Linked DNA regions of Homo sapiens: region 2 is linked to region 1. The links come from fine-mapping of genetic effects on gene expression. Tissue or cell type: whole blood. Region 1 holds a variant in brackets; the other region holds the start of a gene. All regions are shown on one strand. Distances are between the middles of the regions.

Evidence for each region.
Region 2: SESN3 starts here. The variant in region 1 is fine-mapped to the expression of SESN3 in whole blood (INTERVAL, PIP 0.99).

Annotation. Positions count from the first base shown.
Region 1 is chr11:95,205,691-95,214,709 of GRCh38, reverse strand. The region is part of intron 1 of SESN3 (sestrin 3); the gene reads left to right. Among named protein-coding and RNA genes, the nearest start is that of SESN3, 21 kb to the left of the region's middle. The variant C/T (reference allele first, on the strand shown) is at 4,540.
Region 2 is chr11:95,225,933-95,234,441 of GRCh38, reverse strand. SESN3 (sestrin 3) reads left to right here and starts at 3,240. Exons shown (of 10, transcript NM_144665.4): 1 at 3,240-3,659. The coding sequence starts at 3,582. LOC100129203 (a long non-coding RNA gene) reads right to left here and starts at 4,256. Exons shown (of 6, transcript NR_110295.2): 1 at 3,947-4,256; 2 at 2,869-3,317; 3 at 2,266-2,390; 4 at 1,768-1,852; 5 at 1,523-1,562; 6 at 38-988. RefSeq lists enhancers at 1,582-2,221, 2,222-2,861 and silencers at 3,217-3,366, 3,377-3,686.

The DNA.
Region 1 (9,019 bases):
TAACATTTGTCCTGATGACAGATTTGGGATTGATATGTTGTTTTTTAAAAATTCTTTTGAATCTCTTGGACAATATTAAATACATATATATATATAAATTATGGATGTTCTCTTTCACCTATAGTAGCTTACTCTTCAATTAAAAATGGAGTGTCAGAAAGTCTCCATTTGGAGACAGGAGGCCTACAAATTGAAACAGAAGAAACCCAAGCCATGTGTATTATATATGGACCATAGGTAAATAGAAGATTGCTCTTTGAAAAGCAAAGATTGTTTCAGTTAGTTGCAGTTCTATCTAGGACAGTAACTATAAGTCATTTTATTTTGTTCTTTGGTTGTATCTAATTTTGAGGTAATGGGTGTTTTCCTCATATTACCTCTAAGTTAATACTACAATTTAACCTGTATTGATGTTACTTATGTGAATAACAGGCTGTATTAAATTACCCCACTTTAATTCCAAAGTTCCTTACGCATGGGCTGCCCCAGAAGCATATGTAATTACTTAATTCTAAACCATGGTAGGTGATGCTTTTCTAGTGACCATTTTTCTATCCTTCTGTGAGGAAAGGGCTAATATAGTACCTTAAATAGAACTGTCTCCATGGCAATGGACAGTCAGCTTTTGACTTTGAATCTCATGAAAAAAGAAAATTTAAAAAGCATTTTCATGGTCTAAAATAGCAGTATGGCAAAAGTAAGGTATGAGAATATTTCCTGTCAGTTATTGCATGACTGGTTAAGGTAGCAGAACTTTTATCTTTTTTTCTTTTTTCTTTTTTACATAGGACTTTTTATTTGAGTATTTTGAAATGTTACCGAATTCCTTCTCTGAATTAATGAATGATAATTATTATCTTCAGATTGATAGAGAACTAGAGAAGCTTAGATATAGGATTGGGTCCATGCCTGAGAAAAAAAGAGTTGCCTAGCTCTGGTTGTAATTTTACTCTCATAAAGAATAAAAATACTGACTAAATTATGGGTCATTCATAATTACATTTAAACAGAGCTATCTCATGGAACACTGGAAGCAATAACGATTAAAAATAAAAGCTTAACAAATTATGCCAGTTTTTTTTCAGCCAACTCCTACGATTTGGGGTCTACAGATCACCTATCCTATTTAAAAGACTCCACTGGCAGCCTGCCTCCCTTGTTCTCTTTTGCATCCACACTTACTTAAAGGCAGAGCCCTTTGATTCTAGCTGCTTGTTCACCTAGCTTTCAGTAAAGGTCAATGACAGTGCTGTATATTAGAAGCTAGAGAATAAGACCACATTGTCATCGGTAATCTTACTTTGTCTTTTTCCTTTGTAAAGTTGTTTGCCCCTTGACTAAATCTTATCTCAGTATAGGGGTCATTTTCAATTGAATCAGCTCTCATCTTTAAAATATCATCAGTAAATGCTTAATACTCTGAGGTTACTGTTAATGAGGGAATTGGTTAAACAAATTATGTGACATAAATACAGTGGAATACTGGGCAACTGATCTATGTATAGAAGTGGACAGACATCCACAATATGTTATTGATTGGAAAAGACCAAGGTTTTTTTTTATTTTTTAGGACTATGAAGATTTTTGTTTTCATTTAAAAAAAGATAAATAAGGAATCCAAAATTAACAGTATTAATTTCTGGGTGGTGGGGTTACAGGAGATTATTTTTACCATCTACTTCATTGTCCTTTGTTTTTAGCAATAAACACATATTTTATAAAAGTTTAAAAAGCTATTACTGATTTGAAATAATAGAGAAGAAGAGATAATTTAAGTGATGGATAGTACAGAGAGCAGATTCAAATGAGATGGCAAATTAAAGATGCATTGAGATAAAGACAAATGTTCACAGGTTTAATAGATATCCAAAGTAGCTATGGGTAAATCACCAAGGGAATAATAATGTGTGTGTAGGAGGCTAATGAGGGCTCAGATGCGTAGACATAGATCAATACAATCTGGAAATGAATGAAGGTACTGTGCCTATCTATAGCATATTTTTTTATGTTGTCATATCAATCATTCTCTTTAGGAATCTGATGTGCTTATTAATATTTCATCAGAATATTAGTTTGTTTCCTTAATTATGAATTCAAGAGATAGCTGCAATTGTATTGCTCTACTTTTATACCATATGGTAGATAATAAAACTTACTGTATAAATTTCAGGAATTTAAATATATAATCTGAGCACTGTGTGTTAATCTAGAGATATTATCTATTAGGAACTGAAATAGAAAAAGATGGCTACTTTATAATATAATGTAATTTTAGAATTATTTAATTAATATGTATGCTAGGATTTTTGAAGACTTAAAAAAGGTGTATGGAGTCTGTCCTAGGTTTTAGAGAGCTTACTCTGTGGTTAGAGAGAAAGATGTTTTCTAAATAATTATAAAGATAGCTAAAAATGGAAAACTATACCTTTTGACTTTTTGTAGAGGTTAATAGATTATTATGTATCTTCACTTGTGAAAGCATGGATAATGTTTCAGTTAATTTAATACATTACTGTATGGAAAAGAAGGGTAGTTAAATATTAAATACTTGTTCTTATGTTTAAGGCTTAGGTATGTGGTTTCAGTGGACTATTTTTAATGATTTTTAAAAATATATATTTGAATTCTCAAAAATGCAAAATGTGTTATAGATAACATTATAGAGTATCTATAACCAGTTATTTTATAAATGGGTGTTTTTTACTTAAGTGGCTTTACTTTCCAATTTTATTTTCCATTTCTAATAGGATGGGTCATTTGTTGAACAAAATATCGAATTAATGACCTACTTTGAGCCAATTGATAGTTTTCTAAACCCAGCCTATTCTGTAAATCTTTTCTTTAGCTTGTAAGACAATTTCTAAACATGTTGTCTAGTTGTGTTATACTAAGGAACTCAGTATTGCATAATTCTAATAACAGCAGTTACTTTTTTTTTTTGAGACGGAGTTTTGCTCTGTCACCCAGGCTGGAGTGCAGTGGTGTGATCTCGACTCACTGCAACCTCCGCCTCCCGGGTTCAAGTGATTCTCCTGCCTCAGCCTCCTGAGTAGCTGGGACTACAGGCGTGCGCCACCATGCCCAGCCAATTTTTGTATTTTTTTTTGGTAGAGATGGGGTTTCACCATATTGGCCAGGCTGGTCTCAAACTCCTGACCTCGTGGCCCACTCGCCTTGGCCTCCCAAAGTGCTGGGATTATAGGCATGAGCCTTTTATAGTTGTATAGATGATGTCACACTCTTAAGAGCTTTACAGATATTTATTCATATAATATTCTCACTGCCTATTTTAATAGCCTTCTATTCACCCACTGCTGTGGGAGGGACTGCCACTCTTGGGTCATGGGGGTGGCTGAACGTATAATACCTAACACTGGACAGATGAGATCAACAGTGGTTTATTAGTCACATATACTCACAGTCCAGGGGAAGAGGACACTGCACACCATGCAGTGCACTTGGAAGTTGTATTCTGGAACAGAATGAACAACGAGGGGCAGTGAGAGACAGGCTTTCTAGAATAAAGAGGGTGAGATGCCCCAAGTTTCTACATGAAGCTATGATTGGCTTGTTTACATGATTGCATGAACTGGAATACTTTTCTATGCACCAGGAAGTAATTAATGATTATCTGGGATATTTATTATTCTTTTCCACTATAATTGTGTCAGAGCATCTTATCATTTCTCTTGATAAAACTGGGTATCTTTTTCTCTGAATTTTTCACATAATGCAAGTGTAATTGTAAACTAGCTGCTTTTGTTTTTTCCTTTTTTTTAGTCTGGCCAAACCTTTGATATAAAGAAGAATGTTTATAGAGTATTATTTATACTGAACTCTATGTCCTAATTAAAAGCAGATTTACCAAGTTTGGGTTTTTCTCATTCCCTTTATCTTGCCTGTGAACTTTGTCAAATTAACTTTTTAAAAATACAAACTGTTTATTAAAGAGTCTTGAATCTAGTATATTGGAATAATAAGTTTCTTTAGTCTTCCTTTCTGTTTTAATAAGAGCTATGCTTAAGTGATGTAGTGGTAGAATGCAAAATGCTCACAGTTCTGCTGTAACACTTAATGAAAATTTGTTTTAATTGATGTATTAGGGAATGATTTGAGCATATCAGTGAATTTTGTGTATTAGGATACATACTTCAAACATCTACCCTCCACCTTAGTTCACCAGTGTATTATGAGCTCCATCCATTCATATCTGGTGTTACATTGTTACGTCTTATTTCAGATCATCCTTCTGCTGCTTCATAACTTACAGGCTGTAGGCCTTGCAGTAACCACTTCCATAAGCAATTTTCTTTTTCAAGGTAGAGTGCCATATACATATATATTTTAATTGTACTTTAAGTTCTGGGATACATGTGCAAGAAGAACGTGCAGGTTTGTTACATAGGTATACATGTGCCATGGTGGTTTGCTGCATCCATCAACCTGTCATCTACCTGAGGTATTTCTCCTAATGCTATCCCTCCCCTAACCCCCTACAGGCTCCGGTGTATGATATTCCCCTCCCTGTGTCCATGTGTT[C/T]TCATTGTTCACCTCCCACTTATGAGCAAGAACATGCGGTGTTTGGTTTTCTGTTTCTGTGTTAGTTTGCTGAGAATGATGGTTTCCAGCTTCATCCATGTCCCTGCAAAGGGCATGAACTCATCCTTCTTTTTTTTTTTTTTTTTTTTTTTTGAGATGGAGTTTCACTCTTGTTGCCCAGGTTGGAGTGCAATGGCGTGTTCTTGGCTCACTGCAACCTTCGCCTCCTGGAATCAAGCGATTCTTCTGCCTCAGCCTCCAGAGTAGCTGGGACTACAGGTGCACACCACCACACCCGGCTGATTTTTGTATTTTTAGTAGAGACGGGGTTTCGCCATGTTAGCCAGGCTGGTCTCAAACTTCTAACCTCAGGAGATCCACCCGCCTCAGCCTCCCAAAGTGCTGAGATTACAGGTGTGAGCCACCACGCCTGGCCAAACATCCTTTTTTATGGCTGCATAGTATTCCATAGTGTATATGTGCCACATTTTCTTTATCCAGTCTATCATTGATAGGCATTTGGGTTGGTTCCAAGTCTTTGCTATTGTGAATAGTGCTGCAGTAAACATACATGTGCATATGTCTTTAGAGTAGAATGATTTATAATCCTTTGAGTATATACCCACTAATGGGATTGCTGGGTCAAATGGTATTTCTGGTTCTAGATCCTTGAGGAATCGCCACACGGTCTTCCACAATAGATGAACTAATTTACACTCCCACCAACAGTGTAAAAGCATTCCTATTTTCTCCACATCCTTTCCAGCATCTGTTGTTTCCTGACTTTTTAATGATCATGATTTAATCATGTGTTTTTGATTTGCATTTCTATAATGACCAGTGATGATGAGCTTTTTTTTCATATGTTTGTTGACCACATAAATGTCTTCTTTTGAGAAGTGTCTGTTCATATCCTTTGCCCACTTTTTGTTGAGGTTGTTTTTTTCTTGTACATTTGTTTAAGTTCCTTGTAGATTCTGGATATTAGCCCTTTGTCAGATGGATAGATTGCAAAAATTTTCTCCCATTCTGTAGATTGCCTGTTCACTCTGATGATAGTTTCTTTTGCTGTGCAGAAGCTCTTTAGTTTAATTAGATCCCATTTGTCTATTTTGGCTTTTGTTGCCATTGCTTTTGGTGTTTTAGTCATGAAGTCTTTGCCCATGCCTGTGTCCTGAATGGTATTGCCTAGCTTTTCTTCTAGGGTTTTTATGGTTTTAGGTCTTATGTTTAAGTCCTTAATCTACCTTGAATTAATTTTTGTTTAAGGTATCAGGAAGGGGTCCAGTTTCAGTTTTCTGCATATGGCTAGCCAGTTTTCCCAACGCCATTTATTAAATAGGGAATCCTTTCCTCATTGCTTGTTTTTGTCAGGTTTGTCAAAGATCAGATGGTTGTAGATGTGTGGCGTTATTTCTGAGGCCTCTGTTCTGTTCCATTGGTCTATATATCTGTTTTAGTACCAGTGCCATGCTGTTTTTGTTACTGTAGCCTTGTAGTATAGTTTGAAGCCAGGTAGCATGATGCCTCCAGCTTTGCTCTTTTTGCTTAGGATCATCTTGGCTATATGGGCTTTTTTTGGTTCCATATGAAATTTAAAGTAGTTTCTTTCAATTCTGTGAAGAAAGTCAATGGTAGCCATTTAAGTGAGGAATTACTACCTACCAGCCAACCCATATGCTCTGATAGTTATAAACACATTTCGCACACTGATGATCATGCAGCTCTTCTTTTAGAAAAAAATGTATTTTTTGGAGATTACATTCTTGGGAAGGAACAGCTGTATTTGAAGTCCTGTCATGATTATATGAACTCTCTACAAAACAGTTACATAAAGTTAAACCTCACTAATATATACAGGACCAGTAATACTTCGTGCTGGAGCTAAAATTATTTAATATATTTCTAAAATAAAAATATGTGAGGACAAGTCCATACATTATTTTGGAGGACTTTCAAAAGTTATTCATACTACTAGATTATAAAGGTTATTCATATAAAGATTATTTAAAAGACTACTCTCACCATTTACATAAAATACCTTAAAATAATCCCTTGATTCATTTTTTTTAAAAAACTAAGGAAAGAAGAAAATCATTGAATACCATAATCCTGACAATAAATAGATTATTATTATTTCTTTTTTTTAGAGTATGGTATGCTTTGTTCACTGGATCATTTATGAAGAACATAAATTAGCTGGGTGTGGTGGCTCACGCCTATAATCCCAGCACTGTGGGAGGCCCAGGCAGGTGGATCACTTGAACTCTTGAGTTCGAGACCAGCCTGGGCAACATGATGAAACCCAGTCTCTACAAAAAAAACAAAACAAAACAAAACAAAAAAAACATATAGTATAGAACATTGAAGAGAATTTTAGACATATTTAAAATTACAGTTCTTCTGCTATTAAATTATGTAAATTATATGATATTATATGATATATATCTACAATAGACCTTTTTCTAATCTTGGTTTTATAACATTTTACCAAAAATCCAGAACGTATCAGTTTATTAATAGGTTAAGTAAAATTATTTTTAAAATAAAACATTTTTTAAACTAGCAAAATAATGGGAAAGTAATTTTAAAGCATTTAGCTTATTTTCTTTCTGAAAACTTTCTACCAGCATTTAGAATCTTTCACAGCATTCTGTATAACCATAGAATGTTAATGCAAAAAGGCCCCACGGAATGTCTCTCATTTTTTAAATGTGAAAATTAATTCCTTGAAAAATGATCAAAGCTCTGATCCTTTCAGTGCTAAGAAGGGAAAATAACTCAGGTTTTAGTACCTTTTTCATCGTATCACCTTACCTCTAGCATTCAGGTATATATTACTTTGTTTATTACTCTTTGGGTGTCTATATCTAATTTTACCAAGTAGTTTGTAAACCCCTTTAGGCAGTTTTTGTACTTTCTGTTCTTAAAAGAGCTATTACATAAGCTGCTTAACAATGAATTTAATTGGTACATACTGATTGGTTGGTTGATTTCTTTGATTTGGAAGTAAGTGTTTTAAACTTAGAATGCCTAGTGCAGGCCTCTGGTGTTCACAGATGTCCTTTCAGTACTTAAAAAGTAGTAATGTTGGCCGCGCGTGGTGGTTCATGCCTGTAATCCCAACACTTTGGGAGGCTGAGGCGGGTGGATCACGAGGTCAGGAGTTCAAGACTAGCCTGGCCAAGATGGTGAAACCCCGTCTCTACTAGAAATACAAAAAAAAATGCCTCTGTAGTCCCAGCTACTCGGGAGGCTGAGGCAGAAGAAATGCTTGAACCCGGGAGGTGGAGGTTACAGTGAGCTGAGATCATGCCACTGTACTTCAGCCTGGGCAACAGAGCAAGATTCCGTCTAAAAAAAAAAAATAGTAATGTTTAGGTGATATGAATGACTGTTTATTTTGAGTTAACTGAAAAACTATTGATTTAGTACACTAACACTGAAACCTTAAGTACAGGCTAAGGATAACAAATCCTGTTATCCTTAGTTAAGTTACTTAAAAAAGAAAGATAAAGAACAGAAAAGGGCCTGAATAGCATCTGTATGCAAACTAATCTGGAAAATGGGAGGAGATATCAAGAGAATGACAAATTAAAGGAAGTCTTTGTGATCATTAGAAGATAATTACTTTCACAGATCTTAATTATAGCATAATTATAGCTTTTTCTTTCTATCAAAAACTGCACTCTGAGAATTTTCTTGCCAAAACAGGAATTGAGAAACTTTGGATGTTATGAAGTAACTCTATTAAATTATAAGAGTGTGTGTGTGTGTGTGTGTGTGTGTGTGTGTGTGTGTGTGTATTTTAGGACTGGCATAAATCCAGGATGCCAAAAAACATTTTAAGGTGGTTATGGTTCAAAAATAGTTCATAATATCATTAAATGTATAATAGGCTGAGTAATATATAGAAATAGTATGTTATCAATCAACATTTATTGGGCACCTGATTTGAATTAGTCATTAAGATAGAACACTTCTTTTATAATTAAATTAGTGAAAGAGAAGATAAACCACTTTTATGAGGTTTATCTTCTCTTTCACAAAATGATACCAGGCATCATATAAATGGGAATCTGGAAGACGGGAAAACTCGCTGTGGGTTTGAATGAGTCAATATACAGAATTTAGGAACTGTGTTGAGGCTTATGTGAAGTGTTCATATAAGGGAACACTTGGAAAACAAAAGTTGAAAAGTTAGGTTAGGGGCCAGAATGTTGGAGATCTTGCCTTTCTTCCTCTACTGTCCTTCCCCCAACTCCACCCCCTCAATAAACTAAGGATAAAATGATAGGCTAAACTGAGGTAGTAGTAGTAGAAATGGAAAGCAAATTAGACTCACTGAGAAGTTTGTGAACAGGTGGTGAGATAACCTAGTATAAAGTTGTTATTAAATATTAGAGTGTAATGTATAATAAAAGTTTGGGTCTTTAAATGCAAATTAAAATAATGAAACACTTGATTCTTGACAGTGCTT
Region 2 (8,509 bases), 20 kb before region 1:
CCTTTTACTCAGAAATTCCAGGCCTAGGAATCAGAGATTCTGCCAGAAACTTAAGTATAAGGAAGTTTATTTTGTTATTTACAATCATGAAAAATCTGAAACAACCCACATATTAAACAATAGCATAAGGATTAAGTAAGTTATGGTACATCCAAGCCATGTAATTTTATGGATTCTTTGCTTAAAAAAATTACACTTTAAAAGAATAATTCAAAACAAGCAACATGATTATGAGATAACAGTTTTGAAATGATGTACAATGTTTAATGAAGTATCATCCTAATTTTGTAATAAAAAATTAAAAAGTAGTTCTCAACATTGGTTGTAATTTTCACTCATATCCTACTTTTCTAAAGTTCTTTCTTGTTTTAAACATACCAGACAACAAAAGGGGTGGAGTTTCTCCTTGTTCTATGTGCAATAAAAAGAACTGGCTTTTGTTTCTTTTCCTCTTAAGTGCGATCCTGGGTTTGAAATAAAATTCCCTTTATAATATTCAGGCTGGCCAAGAAAGGAAGGAAGGTCAGGTGAAGAATGGAAGAGAAAGGAGATGTCCAGAAACTGAACATTTCCATGAGAGAGGAGAATAACTATGATGGGAATGAGGGTGTGAGGACAGACCAGAAAGGGTGGTTGCTGTGTTAAGAATAAGGTACTGGCATTGAGTAGTTGAGGGCAGAACATAAACACATACATAATGGTTCACTGTAAGAAATGTCACAATGTAATACATGATTAACTGCCAAATAAATAGCACTACAGACAATACATATTATAATAGTTTGGAGGAATTTGGTGCAGAGAGCCATCATATGGTCAGATACATGTATGTGACCATGTATTATTGAAGATATTCATCTACTAAAATCTTCCTTTAGCGATCTTTGTTAGAGGGTGTTATTGTATAGGACTAGATTCTCTCGGCTTTCCTTTCTGGAGGATTTAGTTACTGAAGAACTTAAAGGAACTCATTTCGAAAGGATTTTAGCTGTCAAGTGAAAAAAGAAAAGAAAAGGTTATAAGAAGAATGTGCTAGAAAACAATATGAATTTAAAATTCTATTTGAGAAAATTCAATCTGCACAAAAATTCACTTCATCCTTCAATTTCTCCTTTCCTTTAAAATGTACTCACATAAAATCTGCTTTAAAAGCCAGAACCAGCCAGGAATATAGCCCAAGAAATTTACCACTAAATGGGGACACATATGTGTTTCTTAGAAAAACTGTGCCTTGCTGACTTTCTCCCTGCATTTCTTGGTTCTCTGCATCGAAGGGCATGTGGTAATTCCCTCCTTTTCTGAATTTACTTGCTTTTACAGTTTCTTCTAACTGAATCTTAAGCACCTTCCCCACACCATTCATTGCTCTTTAGTTATGTATGTCTACACAGCATCAAGCGACCTTTAGCTAACACTGGCTAAATAGATCAACACCTTTACCCAACTACATAACTTAGACCCTTTTGGGGTTTTCTACTCTATTTTGATCTATTTAAACCTGATACTAGCAGATTTCCATTACCTTTGTTTCTTGTGTAGACTTGGTTTATATGTGTTGGTCTCTAAAAAGGGACAGAGAGGAGACAGCTGTTGAGAAATGAGAATGGCAGTTTTAACCGCACAAATTGGTCTAATAGCTTTGATATGCTAAACTTGCTAGCTCCTCCAAGTGTACCTTTCCGATTTTGCATAACACCACCCTGAATCCCTAAGGAAACCAGGGTTGTTGTTTTTTTTTAATTAAAAAGAAAAGAAAGAAATGCAAACCAGTGAAACCGTTCTTTTAAATCATCTCCACATAGATTTCATTCTACGAACTTCAGGCCTTCACAAATCCTGGTACGCTGGAGACCTTTAAAAAGGGAGAAGCCGAGAATACTGATTAGGTTCTAAAAATCGAAAACAGGTGATGTCATAATGCACAGTCCTGTGGCCACGGCCATGGCCGGGTGGGGAGCTGGGCTCCAGTGAGCACAGAGCTCCTTGCCAGTAGGCGATGCAAGTTATCTCTGGGGCCCGGAGGACACGAGTGAGGACCGGGCACCAATCAGGTTCTCGCTCTGCGCCGGCCTTTGTTCTCACTCGGGAGCAGGTTGCGGGCGTCTAGCATCGGGAACCCGCATTCGACTCGGACGCGCATTGCTAGCCCCTTCGGGAGACCTGGCTCCCCTACCCGTCTGTCCCGCCACACTCGGTCAGCCTGCGCTTTCCCCAGTCAAGTCTGCCTTCTCTCCGCAGAACGTGGACGCTAAAACCCTGACTTACCATTTTAAGCTTTAGAAGAGGTAGGTTTGTCCCAATAGTTTTAAACGACAATTTGTTCTCTGAACCTTCCTTTCTGAGCAGGGCGCTGTGCTCTGCATGTATCCGAACAGCTGCCTCAGGAAGGTCTTTTGGGTGAGAAAACAAGCCCCTTTGGCCTTTTAGTGCTGGACAAGTAAATGAACTTACATCTCTAAGATAACTGCTAGAAGGTGCTTCACAAACAAGAGGAAACCGCTAAACCAGAGGTTTTGTGTCTCTCCCCTCAAACTCGATTACTTGCGTAAATATATATATAACTCAGACATTTATCCCCTATCCGCCTCCCAAGCCTCAAGTAACTGAAATCTTTGCAAAACAAGGTTCACAATAAATGATGCGTAAAGTTCTTTGAGATCCCTGGATACAAAGTACTACATAACTGCAGTCTTCTTTACAGCTAAAGTTAGATTTTGGTGGAGAGAAAGCCTAACCACTGCCCTGAAGGAAGGAACATTTAATCCTCCCACTCCCCTCCCCCTTTCTCGAGAGATCAGGAAATATTTAGCTCAATCTTAGACTCTCTAGCGAGCTCTAGCTCCCAACTATTTATCTCATTCTCCTCACCACTTCTGCAGGGACCTAGAGAAGGGGGCGTAGCTTATCTTGGGGGTGGGGCTTGGAGGGCAGTATATTTGCATATGACACACCCTCGTCCTCTTATTGGCAGAGGAGAGCAAACTGTTCCCTGCTACCCTACTACTTAGCTAACCGCCACCTCCCTTCAGTTCCGAGCCTCGGAGATAAACTTAACTTGCCCGGAGATTCAAGGCTTCCTCGGCCCCTGCGATTGGCCGGCGCGACTCCCAGTCGGGCTCTCGTTGCTCATTGGCTGCGGGCTAGCGCCCTGGGGGCGTAGCCGGAGCTGTCCGATTGGCGGGAGGGGCGGTACCGGAGCGTGGAGGTGGTGAAGGTGGTGGGGCGGCGGAGGCGGGGCCGCACTGAGGCGCTGCGGCGGCGGTGGTGGCGGTGGCAGCGGTGGCGGCTGCTCGTCCTAGCCTGGCGGGGGCGGGGGTCTGGAAGATGGGGGCGGGTGGAACAACGGGCCGGTGAGGAGCAGCCGCCGCCGTCTCCGCCGTCGCTGGGGCAGCTGCCGCGGTGGTCGCCTCTGGCAGTGCCGCTAGCTTTCAGGCAGTCGCCTCTCCTCCCGACATCCCGCCTTGAGGAGGCTGAGGCGGAATCGCGGCTGGCGGCGGGGGGACGGACCGGCCCTGCAGTGGCCGCAGTGACAGCCCGGACCCGGCCCTCCGCCCGCTCTCGCCTCGGCGCCCGCAGCCACGATGAACCGGGGCGGCGGCAGCCCGTCGGCCGCCGCCAACTACCTGCTCTGTACCAACTGCCGGAAAGTGCTGCGGAAGGTACGGGTTCGGCCCGGGGTCCTGCCGGCGAGGGTCGCTTCCTGCCGGCCGGGGCTCGGGCGGCTCGTCCCCGGGCGCGCACTGGGGGAGGCTGAGAGGGATCCCCGGGCACCGTCCCTCCGCAGGGACTGAGAAAGGGGGCGTGGGTTGAGGGCAGGAGGGTTTGGACTACTGCGGCTTTTTATTTCCGCCGGGACAGACCCAAGTCTGGAGGGGTTGGGATATTTTTTCTTCCCTTGTTCCTTTTATTTGGTGCCTTTGCTCTCCTTTACGGCTCATTTCCCTACCTTGCTACCCCGGGTCGGCTCCTTGGGCGGAGGGCGGGAGGGATCCGTTCGATCCTCCTCCCTGTGCAGTTTAGCTGTTGATGGAGGTCGGTGTGAAATCAGAGCAGCTGGGTCGGATCCCGAGGAACCTGGCCCCTCTTTGCTGTGGCTAACTCTTGCGAGTGTTGTTTTTGTTTATTCGGTTGCTTCTGCCTTGCGCGCCTTGCTCAACAACCCCCGTTTTCAAATTGTTTGGATGGTAGTCCTGTGTCTGTAGTTCAGTCTCGAAAGGAACCAGTAAAGCATCTTGAACTTTATGCCCATGGGAAATGCAATTCGACCTGGCCAGTTCCTGAGGCTGGGGTTGGGGGAGGAGAAGACTGAGGTGGATGTGGGTTATTCCTCCTTAGCACCCCCCTGCCCCCGTGTTGATCCAGAAAAATGAGGCGCACCATCAGTTTATTGCTGCTTCCTAGAGTGACTGATAGAAAGTTTACTCCAGTATTGTTTAGCTTACTTGGCTTAATCGCCCCGCGGGGAAGGGCGAGAGGGATGGGGAAGGGAATGAAAAAAAGGTCTCTAGACTTTTTGATCAGATTTTAACAGCTGCCCCAAAGTAATATTATAATCAGTTTATTCGTATTCAAACTCTATTTTTACATTTTATTAAGTGGAAACGTTAGGTGAGATGCTTCTGTTTGTTCACTACAAATGAATTAAAATTGCTGAGCTGTGCAAATGCATCGGGACTGAAAGCGGAGATGAATATGGTACCGTTTTTAGTCAACATCTCTAAATACGGTTCACTTTGGGATTGTTCTTTCTACATTTTTTTTTAAAAAAGGAAGAAAGAAAAAAGCACATAAGTAAGCAAGCTCAAATATTTGCGCTCTTTGTCCAAAAACTGTTTTTCTTCCTCTGTGGGTCAGGCCAAGTGCCAATCAAAGTTGTTTTTCAAGCCTCTTTTCCCTGCAGTAGGGCTGCTGCTTTTTTTTTTCTTCCTATTTTATTTGAGAGCGTGAGAGCAAAGGGATTGCAGATTTGAGGTTAATTGAACAGTTAAATATGCCTTAAATTGTGTTTATTGGATATGTTTCTCTTGAAACAGATTTTTATTAAATGTGCATGTTGAGTATGTGCAGTTATTTTTTTCCATAAACTCTAGGATCAAATTACAGTTGATACTTGCTCAGCTCATTGTAGGGTAGCTTGTGAGAAATGTAATGGATCAGAAGTGCAGATCAGCTTAGTTGGATGTTAACTCTTTCACTGCAGGGCCAGATGTCATCTGAACTTAGCTTTCAAAAAAATTTATTTCTTAATTTTTAAATTTATGTTATGTCTTTGACATGAAAAAATGTGTCATTTAAGACATGTTTGATTAAAGTGCAGCCTGGTTAAAATGACAGCAAGTTATGCTTTTTAATTGAATAAGGAAAAAGAGCACTGTATTGACTTTGATAAAAAAATTTTTTAATGGCTCTGGCAATTTGTTAGGCTAATAAAATGTTTGGAGGTAATATTAGGCTTCAAAATGTATTTCATTTTTCTTTTGAGAGAGCTATGGCTATGGATCCATGACACTTTGCTAGCATTTAAGATATTACATCTTTCCTTTAGCTTTTAGGAAACTATTTCTGTTTACCTAGAAAGAACATCCTCATTTCTAGCCATTATTAAAAGAAACGTGGAAAAAGAGTATTCACATTTTCGTATTTTATAATTGCTGAGCACATCTCTGCCAGTATTCCAGTTTTTAGTAACTCCAAGGTATTTAATATTGATTCATGCAGTGGCATGAAATAACTTAATGGAAATAGGATTCTTTGAGCCAGTTATAACATGACTTGGCAACATTTGCAGCTTTTTAAAGAGTGCCACTTTGAAGTGCTCTTAAGAGAATCAGTATGTAGCATTTTAAATGTTTCATCATTCTTAAAATAACAATGAAAAGTTTATTTCTAATAAAGACATGTTTTTCTTGTTGATATAACTCTAAGTTAAAAGTCATCTATAACTCTCAAAATGTGATTCTTAGAGTTTATCTTGTTTTCCATTTAATAAAGTGTTCAGTAATGTAGCCAAGTGAGTCATAGTATTTTGAATGTTTGTTCAGTCTAATTCATAATGGAAGAATGAAACTCATGCTCATCCAGTGTGAATTACTTTTGCTTTTATATTTCTATATAATGATGGAAGAAGGGTCACCTTTATATGGGACAGAAAGTGTTATTCTCTCAGTAGGTGGCTTAATTTGTTGCAGTGTGTTGAATTTTAGGGGAACTTCACAAGGAATGGAATTCACCTTCAAATGAAATAATATGGTTTAACCCAATGCCTGAATATTGAATTATATATTGTATGAGAATTACATTTATTCTTAGAAGTCCGTTTACGGTTTTGATTTAGTATCCTCCAAAATAAAGAGACTTATTAAAATATTGAATGTACCTAATTTGGTAACCTTAGGACAGTAAAAAGAATGGAGAGGTAAACCATATCCATAAATAAATTAACCATCAAAACTATCCTGAAATCCCTAACTCTTAAGTCTAACTTGCTCTATTGTCAATGAGGTAGTTCAGTAAAGTTTTTAATAAAAGAGGAAATGCTTCTATTTATTTTGTAAAGTTAACGAGTTTTTAAGTTTAATCTTTTACTTGAAGAAATTCTAGTGATAACTAGAAGAACATAATCCTTTAATTTGAAAAGTCATGTGTCAAACTGCATTGAGGAAGGTAGGTAATTATCAGTCCACTCATCTTCCAGTAAATAAAAAAGTGGCATATTCCAATGTACTTTGGGTATTGAGCAGTTAGTGCTACTTAAATGAATAGTTTTGTGCTCTTTAGAGGATCTAACATTTAAACTTTTTTAATGTTAAGATAGTTATAGTGATATATCTTTGTATTGTTATTGCACTTTTCACTTTGTTATATGATCATATATTTTGACATCTTTTTGATGGTTTTATAAACAAAGATACTGTCAAAATGAAAAATACTAGATTGAGGACCGGGCATGGTGGCTTACGCCTGTAATCCCAGCACTTTGGGAGGCCAAGGTGGGCAGATCACGAGGTCAAAAGATCGAGACCATCCTGGCCAACATGGTGAAACCCCATATCTACTAAAAATACAAAAATTAGCTGGGCGTGGAATCGTGTGCCTGTAGTCCCAGTTACTCAGGAGGCTGAGGCAGGAGAATCACTTGAACCTGGGAGGCGGAGGTTGTGGTGAGCCAAGGTTGTGGTGAGCCAAGGTCACGCCACTGCACTGCAGCCTGAGCAACAAGAGCAAAACTCTGTCTCAAAAAAAAAGACAAAAAAAAAAAAGAAAAATACTAGATTGAACTATATGAGCCTCATTTTTATAGTCAAAATTGTTAAGTAATAGCAACTTTATATGGTTTAGCCAATAAAATGTATTTGCTCTATCTGTGGACCACTAGTTACATTATGCCTTGGTTAATCAGTTTTCTTGTGTTACATATTTTTGATTGTCAAAGGCAGTTTTTAACTTGATTATCTTAAATATCCTAAGCAGAGATCAAGTAGTTAATTAGTGATGGCAAACCTTTATGCAATGGTTTTCAAACTGCTTCGTATGGACCCTTAAGATTCTTTGGGGTTTTAAAATGCTTGAGTTGCATTAAATTTTTAAGTATGTTTTAACTTATTTTAAAACTGTAATTTAAAAATATGGGTACCCCCAAATATGTACACATAATTTTAATAACTGGAGTCTAACACCATTATCTTTCATTACAAAATTATTCTTGTGCAGGTCTTGAATTACAATTTGTTCTGCTATCTTTGTACAGATATTTGAATTTTTTTTTGTTACTGTGTCATGTATGAGAAAGATTGTCATTGATTGTGAAGGAACTGGCTTTTTAAAAAGAATTCCTTCCATATTTACTTAAGTTAAATGTTTACTTGTGAGAACACAAATTTATTGTTATCAGTAGTTGTAACTTTATTACTAAAATACTTGAAAGTTGCTTGGTATATTTATATGCTTTATAGTTCAGGTTCAATAGAAGATTTAATTTGTAAAAAGTGTTCTGCTGCTTCCCCCAACTCCCCACCCTAAATAAATAGAAAACATAACTACTAATGTAGTGATACTGGAAGCCACAGATGTGGTTGCAGTTAGGTCTTTAACAGATCTTTTGATTTCAAAGCAGAGTTTTCTCTGTAAAATGTTGATAATTTTTACTTGCCTTACAGATTGCTGTATAGTTGGAGAGAGATAGATGTGTGTTAATGAACTTTATAAACCGTGTAAGAAAGAAAAGGACAAGTCCATATATTTTTCCATTTTCCCAGACTATGTTAGTTCTTTCCGTCTTATGGGAATATATTTCAATACATACTGAGTAATTTGGTTAATACTCACTTTTCTGTCCTGTTTAATTATTGCCTGTAAATGAGAGGTAAAGATTATGCTTTTAGTCAGAATGACTTTTTTTTTTTTTTTTACTTATTTTTGATTTCCATATTTCTGTCTGTATTCCCTGCCCCTTTCCCACCCCTGCACTTAAATAGCAAGGCATTGACTTTTGATTCTCGAATAATTAAAT